Homo sapiens: one gene and its partners. The protein of the gene in region 2 purifies or fractionates together with the protein of the main gene of each other region. This does not show direct contact. Each region holds a gene or a part of one and is shown on either strand. Other genes may lie near its edges.

Region 1 (3,077 bases), on a different chromosome or scaffold from region 2:
ACCAATCAGCCATCAAACCATCCATCCATCATCTGCCAGTCCGTCCAGCTGTCCCCTTCCAACCATCCAACCAACCAACCAACCAACCAACCAACCAACCAACCAACCAACCATCCATCTATACCCTTTCAACCATCCATCCATCCACTCACCCATTCCCTTCCATCCGTCTATCCACCTGCTTCCAACCAACAAACCAATCAACCAACCATCCATCCCTTCCAACCAAGAACCATCCACTCATCCATCCCTTTCCAACCATCCATCTTCTTCCAACCATCCATCCCCTTCCAACCAACCAACCAACCATCCATCCCCTTCTAACCACCTCATCCAACCAACCATCCATCCATCCCTTTCCAACCATCCATCCACCCATCCATCTCCTTCCCCCCATCCACCCTCTTCCAACTAACCATCTCCTTCTAACCACCCCTTCTGACCAATCAACCATCCATCCATCCCCTTCCAAGCAACCACCTCCTTCCAACCAACCATTCATCCATCCCCTTCCAACCAACCAACAAACCAATCATCTATCTATCCAACCATCTCCTTCCAACAAATCAACCATCGATTTATTCCCTTTCAACCAACCATCCATCCATTATCTTCTACCCATCCATCCAATTCTCTTACAACTGATAATTCGTTTTTCAGAAACAGATCTATTTTCCATCTGCTATATACCACCCCTTCCAACCACTCTCTCACTTATCTGCCCACCCCATCATACCCTTCCCAGCACTTTGGGAGGCTGAGGCAGAAGAACTGCTTGAGCCCAGGAGTTTGAGTCCAGCCTGGGTAACAAGTGAGATCCTGCCTCTTAAAAAAGAAAAAATGGCCAGGCGGGGTGGCCCACACCTGTAATCCCAACACTTTGGGAGGCCGAGGCAGGTGGATCACCTGAGGTCAGGAGTTCAAGACCAGCCTGACCAACATGGTGAAGCCTCGTCTCTACTAAAAATACAAAAATTAGCTGGGCGTGGTGACATGTGCCTGTAATCCCAAGTACTCGGGAGGTTGAGTCAGAAGAACCGCTTGAACCTGGGAGGCAGAGGTTGCAGTGAGCAGGGATTGCACCATTGCACTCTAGCCTGGGCAACAGAGCGAGACTCCTTCTCAAAAAAAAAGAAAAAGAAAAAAAATTAGCCAGGCATGGTGGTGTGTGCTTATAGCCCCAGCTACTTGGGAGGCGGAGGTGGGAGGATTGCTTGAGCCCAGGAGTTGAAGGCTGCAGTGAGCTGTGATGGTGCCACTGCACTCCAGCCTAGGTGGCAAAGTGAGACTCTAAAAAAAAAATCTCTTTTTTAACTAATAAGAAAACTAAAAGAAAAAAGAATCAGACCTTGACCATTATACTGAAGAAAAAAAATTGCAAGAAAATCCCAAATTATTGTTGGTCAGTGCACTGGTTTCCATGAACTGTTTCCCATTTTAATTTAATGGCCAAAGAGCTGCTATTAAATCAATCACATGCCTCACTGTTCAACACACCGCATCTTAGAATTACAAAACAGATTTGCTTACATCAGATGTAAAACTTGAACGGCATTTTGTATTTTATGTGCATTCTCAAGTGACCAGACTTAACCCACAAATAGAGCGCCGTGTGCTCCTCGATTGGACAACCAATGTAACATGGCCGGGAAAGGGCAGTTGCTGGAACCAGGGCGAGGGAGGAAGGGTCACTACGGTGTTTAGGCACTAAATGCCCCCAAAGTACAGGGAAGTGTTTGATTCCATCAAGAAAGCACCATTGATACTGAGCGCAGCGGACTAGGAAATCGCTAACGTGGTAAAAAAAAAAAAGCAAGAAACGAATGAGAGGGTAGATGGGTAGGGATTCATGCAGACTTCCCTGGAGGCCTCAGAGAACCCTGGGACACAATGAAGGTTGCAGAGCTGTCACAACTTGTAGCATCTGGGGCTGGGGTGGAGCGGGGGCAGGTTCTTGATCTGCCATGCTTGTCAAGACGATGAGCCAGCAGTTATCAGACACCAGCCCTGGCCCTGCCCAAGCGACCTAGGAAGCTTTTCTCCGAGCCATGGCTCTCTGTCCTTGCACACCATGTTGTCTTTCTGGCCCTTGAGTGGAATGGAAAAGGCCGTGTGCTCCCTGCTAGCCTGGGGATTCACCGGGCACGGCCTTGTCTGCTTGGGCAGCGTCCCCAGGCTGGCACTGCCTGATGCTGATGCCCCAGCCACACCTGCAAACTCTTCCCCCTTTCCCAGCAATGTCCCATGGGGTCTGGCTGGGCCCTAAAAAGCAGGATCTAGGGCACGTCATATCACTGCTGCTAACGACGATGGCTGGATCCCAGAGATCCACCCGGGGATCTCGGAAGGACACACACTCACCAATTTTTTGTCCATTTTTGCTTTGATATCTCTGGCGAGAGTGAAAAATGCCTGTGGAATAAGCACATTGTGAGTCCTTGGGATGGCAGGACCCTGAGTCCTCAGCCGCCCGTGTACAGCGGGTGTGGTGAGACAGCTTCCCAGGCGTGGGCCTCCCATTTGGCCCTTTGATGCCCGCCTCTGGCAGTGGGTTCATCTGGCCTGTCCGGCCCCAGCTCATCCTTCCCCGGCTCCCTCTGCCTCCCACCCACCCTTACTCTCTGACATCAACTCTCACTTCCGCAGAGCACCTTAGCATTGACGGGACTTTACGCATGTGCCACCTCCCCTAAGCCCTGTGAGATGGGGCGACACTCAGTTGGCCAGAGAGGAAACTGAGGCTCAGAGAGGCCAAGTGACTTGTCCAAAGGAACCCAGCAGTTAACCGACCAATCCAGAAGGATCTAGGAGTGCCCAGTTCTTTGTCTCTGACTCCTAGGTTCTGTCAGCTCTGGCCTCCCTTCTGATGGTCAGGGAAAAAGGCAAGCAGCTCTGTGGCCAAACAAGCTTCACTCGGAGTCCTTGCCTGGCAGGGCTGGGAGCGGGAGCAGGTTCATCTCCCAGCACAGCCAAGGGTTGAGCTGCTGTCACAGCCTTGAGGAGGGGACATACAGAGATGGCGGGAGGCGTGATCCCAACATACATCCCCATGATGTGGGAGGTTCTGGAGAGGAGAG
Region 2 (3,654 bases):
CCAAGGGATTCTCCCACTTTAGCCTCCTGACTAGCTGGGACCACAGGAGTGTGCTTCTACACCTGTCTAATTTAAAATTTTTTTTCGTAGAGACGGGTCTCTCTGTGTTGCCCTGGCTGGTCTCAAACTCCTGGGCTCAAACGATCTTTCCACCTTGGCCTCTCAAAGTGCTGGGATTATAGGCATAAGCCACCATGCCCGGCCCGTGTATTTTCATAGAGTTATTATGGCCACATTCTTACAGTTAGAGGAACTGCTTTTCTACGTACTATAGTAACATAAACCATAAAGGCCGTCCTTGAGTGGCTGATATTTGGAAACACAGCTTGGGGAATAACTGCCAACCATGCTGGCCTGACGGACTTGCCCAGCACTCCTGCCTCACCCTCACCCGCCGCACACCCGAGGACAGGCACAGAACCCTTGCTGTCTCATAGCTGCGTGCCCTGGTACATGCTGCTTCCTCACCTGGCCTGCTCTCCATCACCCTTACCTCCTCGACTACTTGAGAGGCTGGCCCATCACTTCTGAGTTAGCTCAGACGTCAGCGTCTTCAGCAGCTGTCTCTAGCCTGTGCCCACCTAGCTCCCTCTACTCTCACTTTGCACCCTTCTATTTCAGTTTTGGTCACTGGGCCTGCCTCCCCCACCAGACCAGAACCTCTCTTGCTGCAACACAACCTTCCCTCCTCATTATACCATTGAAAGAAAGTTGACTTTTCTTGTCCTATCTCCTCTCCCTACCACTGGGGCTTCCTTCTGTGTCCTTTCTACCCTGGGCCACTGCTCCTTTCCATTTCAGAGCAGCCTTTGACACTGAACACGTGGGCAAACCTCAGAATGTCAGTGACAGAGCTGATCTAGCCCAATGCCCATTCTCAAGAAGGGTACAGAGGAACATCAAAGAGAAAGAGAATCCTATGTCCAAGGTGACCACCAAGATCCTCCCAGTTTCACAGGCTCTCTTCACTCATTCCCTCATTCCCACCAGCATGAGTCCCGGCCTCAGCACCTTGACCCATCTGTAGCCACTGTCTCCCAACCTGACAGGCAACAAGTGACAGTGAAAAGGCACCCAGGGCCTTGGGGGCTGTGTTTCTTCCCTTTTTCCTTACAGCTAATGCTATTACGCTGGAATCTATAGTCAGAGAGTCCAGAAGCTATGCCACCCACCCCCCACCATCCCCTCTGAACAAACACCCTGCAACTGAATGTGACCCATTATGGCAAAATATAACAGGGTCTCCTATCTGAAATGACGTAATTATTATTATTGCTATTATTAACAGCTGACATTCCAAATAGGAGCCTGTTATGTGCCAGGCACCGTTCTAATGACTTTGCATACATTAATTCATTTACCTAATGCTCACGAAAACACTATGAGGTAGGTACAATGATTAGACCCACTTTGCAGATGAGAAAATGAGACACAAAGATTAAATCAGTTGCCCAAGGTCAGGCGTCTGGGAAGTGGAGGAGCTGGGAACTGAACTGAAGCCAGACAGTCTGGCTCTGGCCTCAGAGTCCTTCTCTACGTACTTCACATCACAGGTACTCCCAGGACCAGCTTCACAGGCCACTGTTTCACCAGGAAAGGAAAGAGCAAATATCTGTGTTGGAATGAGTGTACAGCAACCATTAATGATGATGAGAAACAGAAAATTAACCACAGAGCTCGTGAGAATGATCAACTGGGGAAGATGGCAGGACACTAGAATGTTGGCCAAGAGTGTCTGGGAACTAGAATCACAATTTATCAAAAATAAACATGGCTCAAAAAAGCCAGGACCTCACGAAGGTCAAACAATCCGGCCCTGTCAGACACCAAGAGCTACCAGGCTTATCAAAGCCAAGCTCAAATCAGCATCTTGAAATTGTATTTACTACACTTGATCTCAGCGAAAAGGCTGAGAAGCGATAAAATTCTATTTACAAAGCTGAGGAAGGAGATGGGTACGGGATTGCATTGTAGCAAGGAGTGGGAAACAATCTAGGGACCTCATCACTAGAGGAATCAAGTAAGTAAAATGTGGGGGATGCATCTATGGAAACCTGTGGAGCATTTAGAAACTGCATCCCAAATATACCCAGAGCAACATCGACAAGCTCCACACATGGCACTGAGGTGGAAAAAAATGAGGTCTAGGCAGAATCCATTTATGTAAATTAAAAGTATATGCATATAGGCTGGGAGCAGTGGCTCACACCTGTAATCTCAGCATTTTGGGAGGTCAAGGCAGGCAGACTGCTGAGCTCAGGAGTTTGAGACTAGCTTGGGCAACACGGCAAATTTACCTGGGCATGGTGGCACACGCCTGTGGTCCCAGCTCCTCAGAAGGCTGAGGTGGGACGGAGGACTGCTTGAGCCCGGGAGGTCAAGGCTGCAGTCAGCCATGATTATGCCACTGCATTCCAGCCTGAGCAAGAGTGAGACCCTGTCTCAAAAAAACAAAAAACAAAAAGAAGATATACACCAAACACATCAGAATGGTTTCCTGTGGTGAGAAGAGAGGGGAAGAATAGGGACAAAAGGGAATATAAATACAAAGGAGAAAAAGGCCCTGCATGGACCAGTTAAATGTATCATGAACTGAGGAGTGTGATTAACTCAGTAATTTTTTTTTTTTTTTTGTAGACGGTCTCGCTCTGTTGCCCAGGCTGGAATACAGTGGTGCTATCTTGGCTCACTGGCAACCTCCACCTCCCGGGTCCAAGCAATTCTTATGCCTTGGTCTCCCAAGTAGCTGGGATTACAGGTGCACCACCACACCTGGCTTTTTTTTTTTTTCATTTTTGTATTTTTAGTAAAGACGGGGTTTCGCCATTTTGGCCAGGCTGGTCTCGAACTCCTAGCCTCAAGTGATCCACCTGCCTTGGCCTCCCAAAGCACTGGGATTACAGGTGTGAGCCAAATCACCTGGCCAAATTTTTAAAAGTAAAATAAATGAACTGAGAAAACAGAACTGTTCGTGGGTATTCTATCCAAAAAATGCAGGAGGTTAATTCAGTCTGTCTAGAGCAAGCCACTCTGCCTGAATCAGTCAGTCATCTTCACCAGGCGCAAGGAATTGTGTTTGTCTTTGACAAACTTCATGATTAATAGATTGAAATTTCATGTCCACTGGTCCTAAGCCTTCCTCCCCAAGGTCTCACATATACAGAAATTATCCACCAGGATGACCCTCCGAAACACATAGCAGATCCTGTTACCTTTTGCCCAACACTACCATGGTTGACATATAAACCCTTTGCAATAATGTATTTGCTTCCTTTGCACAAGTTGTTCCCATTTTTAGAGTGCCCTCTGCACTTCTTTGTATAGAGTACGTAAGCTGTAGTTAAATTATCACCTCCCCTTGAGCCCTCAGTGAAATCTCCCTGCCTCCTTTTCTGCTTCATAACCTGGCAAGAGTGGCCACACCACACCCATCGAGTCCTCAGCTACTGCAGCACAGTAACAGCCTGTCCACGTCAGCCTCCTCCATTGGTCTGTGAGCTGCTCGATGGCTGGAATGTAGTCTTGTCCTTTCTCCCCCTCAGTGCCCAGACTAGGGCCTGGTCCATGGTAGATGCTCAGTAAACATTTGTTGATTGGGGCAGGGCGCGGTGGCTCACGCCTGTAATCCCAACACTTTGGGAGGCCGAGGCGAGT
Region 3 (3,754 bases), on a different chromosome or scaffold from region 2:
AATATAGCTAACAGCTTTTAAATTTTTACTTTTAACCAGTCTGGGGATTTGCTTGCCTGGTGAGTCTCATATGCCATATTATGAATATGAAAATAATGAAGTTAATTTCCTGTTGCCTTTCTGTGTCAGCCACAATATCAGGTCTAACCCTAATCCAGGGATGCCAGTAAACTGAAGGCAATTTTAGGTTGTAGAACTCAGATTAATTGTAGAAACCATTAATTTTAATTGCTCTAATTTTCATAGTAATCATAAAAAGTATGCAAGTACCTAATATATAAACTCAATTGACACTGTATCTGTAGAAGTAAATTTTTAATGGCTGGTTAATTATATCACTACATTTTATTGCAATATAGTACTCATTTAAGCACTTAAAAATGGAAGGTGTACAAAGATTAAATTAAGACACGGTAAATTGACTAAATATTTGGTTTTTATATAAATAAAGGTCATAACCACACCGTTGACATGTAATACTGTTATAATACAACAGTTAAACTTGTGAGTCTACAACAGAAGTCATCTGTAGTTAAACAGGAAACAAAGTTGAAAAAGACCATGTTAAAACAAAACTACTGGGACTAACAGGTCGGGATTGTAAGTAGCAACAAACATATTCACTCAGCTCCTGAGTATTTCAAGTTTTACAGTACACATTAAAAATGATTTCTTCCATCAACACTATAAATTCAAACTGTCGGATGTTTATGCATTTTGCAAGTTACACTGATTGAATGCTTATATGGGAGTGGGGGTCGGAACATCTCCCAATTTGAAGTTTACATCACCCACATGCTAACACAAACACAACTTGTTCCATTTCCTTCCCCTCTCTCCCCCCTCCCCCACAAAGAAGGCAGGATTTTTGGTTTCTTTTAGGTAATTGTTTTAAAGGATTTGTGATGATCAATTTGAACGTCTGAAATTCAGTAATATTTAACTCTTAGACAACTAAGAGGTTAAAGATGGAAAATAATTTCTCCTAACACTAAGTTAGAAAATCATTTGCATCATGCTGTAAACTAGGAAGCAATGTAAAGCGACAAAAACCTGTCCCCAGTACATAATTTAAAAAATCTAAATTTCAAATCAGCAGAGCTGGTCTACTTCCATGTTGACTATATGCCACAATATAAGTGTGAGCTCTTGAAATGCATAGCTAATGTAGGTAGTCTTCCACTGTGGCAAATGCGCAGGATCCAATTCCTGATCGAGCCATCAGTCCTAGACATTGTGTGGCCTGTCCCATTGCTAGGGCAAGTGGAGGTTGCTTTGGCAGATTGTGGGTTTCTGAGGAAAAATAATTTAAAAATGAGAACAGCAATTAGCAAGACATTTTAAAAAACATTTCAATCAGGAGAATACTGCAATGACTTTAAAAACTACCACTCCCATACCACTCTGAAATATCAGCAAATGAAGGTTTCTAAGCAAAAGACAGATGCCGCCTTGGACATACTATTCTGACAAGGTAGTGTGGGTATTGTGTATTCAACTATAAGATAAACTCTGGCAGAATCAGACTTTTAAAGTATCAGATACTAAAATACTTCCATATTAACTATGATGGGAAAGGTACAATTTTTTATCTGATATTTGGAGTGGAGAGTAAGGAATTATTTCCCTTCTGGTTGATCAAAGTCAGTTGATACTAACTAAAACTAAAAAAGGCACCAGGTTTTCATTACAAGTTTCCACTGATGGGTTCTTCCACCTCTGTGGATAGGACCAAACAGGCTGCCTAGCCATCTCCAAGGCATATATAGGTAATGTTATTTGGGCTGGTGGGGAGTAAGTGGTGGTGGTGACAGTGAGAGAACATACAGCAGAGCCACCCCACAGTTTTGGAGGTGCTAATTTACAGTGGACAGTTCAGACATTTAAAAAAATGCCAATAAATTTTCAGGGTCCTGCATATCATAAGTTTCTTTGTCAGACATTTGTAGTACAAATGCAATAATTAACAAAATTTGTTCCTTGCCAGAGATGGAAAAAAATGAACTAATGGTAAAAGTGGCCAGACTCAGAAGCTGGTAATTTCTCTTTATGAGAAGGCAATGTCCAAACTAATCAATAAAATTACTAATCAGTTCTTTATAGGCACAGTTGACAACAAAGGGCAAAAACAGTTGACACATGGCTAGGAAGGCTTCATATGGTTTAACTCCACTCTTGGTTCAGAGGATGCAATTTGATGGTGGAAGAAAGAAGAGGAAATTTCCAAAAGGGAAAAAGCACAATATCAGAAAGAAGCAAATTCAGGACTTAAAGGTAGAAGAGAAAACAAAAACAGGATTAAGAATAAACGTGTGCAAAAAAGGGCACATAGATTGATGAGAAAGTGTGGTGTCTTGAGGGTTCACAGGGAAGACCGTGCTCAAAGACAAACATCTACAGGGAATATTTTTTTAATTTTATTTTGGCCAAAGGAAGCATCTGGCGATGCATCTTTAACTTTTTTGGATGTATGAAATTTTCATAACACTATATAGATGGACCTACATAATATAGCATGGTATTTATAAACATATACATGCCCATCTATAGCAGTTTAATAATTGTGTCATTAATTTTACAGGAATCGCATACATTTATATTAATAAGATTAAGCACTATTTATGGCTGAATCTACATAATATAGCACAATATGTAAGAGTATATGTGTCTATAGATAATGGTGCTCAACAATTAAATTCCCTTGAAGAACTCAAGAAACTAAATTGTAAGAAAACTGGTCACTTTAAAGATTAGTATCATCTAATAATTAGGTCTTAATGATTACCTACAATATAACTTCAAAAAGACATTTATAGTAAACCATAATTTTCCTTACAATTCCAGCATTATTACTAAGTTACTTTTACCAACGGAGCTAAATGAATTTTGTAGAACCAATGAAAATATAACACATTAACCAAAGAAAATTCACATTTATATACAAATCCTAAATTCCGGAGAACTACAACACTGAGGACACTACTCCTATTCCCAAACTTCAGTATTGGTCCTTAACAAATTAATAAATTTTCTAAGGGCAAAGAAACAGACTGAGTCTTAAATATGAATGCTTTTCATTGCTTCCTTTACATTCTTGCTGTAAGAGTCCTGGCCCTCATTGCAAGTCTCCCTATCTAAACTACTCTTTAATCTACTTTTTGTGGCACTGCCCTCATCTTCCTAAACTAGTTTGAAATATGTGACTAAAAGTCCCTGAACCTTGCAGGGCCAAACAGCACAGCACAGACTTCTAAACTAGACTGGAGTCCCAATTACCTGGGAATTAGACTCTGAAGTCAAATGAAAACTCACTCTTTATATAAATTACCTTTGATGAGAACTGCCCAAAACTCAAACTTGTTTTATGTAAACAATCGACCCTATCACATTTATATAGAAATGCACAATATGTGCAGTTACACAATTCATATAAAAAGTACTTGTTCAGTATATAAATACTATAATCACAAACGCTACAGTGAGCTGCTCATAGGAATGGCAACCAAACGAACATCGAATTAGCGTTTCGCACTTGATGCTCACCCCTGGCTAAGCCTCGCCTTTTAAATTGCTTTTCTCTTCCTCACCCACCCTTTTTATTGGGTAAGGGCATGTAGTTGAATCCGGCTAATATAAATGCAAATAGAATGTGACATCAAGGCTTGATCCTGCCGGGTACTCACAAGTCATCAGGAAGCCCCTTGTGCCCATATTCATAAGCATGGTGGGAGCTGTGATACCAGTGGCTTAGGCT

The links.
Region 1: the proteins of RMND5B (region 2) and RAB8A purify together in Homo sapiens (affinity purification with mass spectrometry, with the first as the bait; one large-scale study listed by BioGRID). This does not show direct contact.
Region 3: the proteins of RMND5B (region 2) and RANBP9 purify together in Homo sapiens (affinity purification with mass spectrometry; 2 studies listed by BioGRID and IntAct, with this or other methods). This does not show direct contact.

What each region holds. Positions count from the first base shown.
Region 1 is NC_000019.10:16,128,889-16,131,965, reverse strand, and holds part of RAB8A (ras-related protein Rab-8A), read right to left. Parts: intron 2,413-3,077; coding exon 2,362-2,412; intron 1-2,361. UniProt on the Homo sapiens protein: The small GTPases Rab are key regulators of intracellular membrane trafficking, from the formation of transport vesicles to their fusion with membranes.
Region 2 is NC_000005.10:178,133,956-178,137,609, reverse strand, and holds part of RMND5B (E3 ubiquitin-protein transferase RMND5B), read right to left. Parts: intron 2,441-3,654; exon of another isoform or gene 2,398-2,440; coding exon of another isoform or gene 2,298-2,397; intron 1-2,297. UniProt on the Homo sapiens protein: Core component of the CTLH E3 ubiquitin-protein ligase complex that selectively accepts ubiquitin from UBE2H and mediates ubiquitination and subsequent proteasomal degradation of the transcription factor HBP1.
Region 3 is NC_000006.12:13,621,200-13,624,953, forward strand, and holds the end of RANBP9 (ran-binding protein 9), read right to left. Parts: intron 1,294-3,754; coding exon 1,163-1,293; 3' UTR 299-1,162; downstream 1-298. UniProt on the Homo sapiens protein: May act as scaffolding protein, and as adapter protein to couple membrane receptors to intracellular signaling pathways. Acts as a mediator of cell spreading and actin cytoskeleton rearrangement.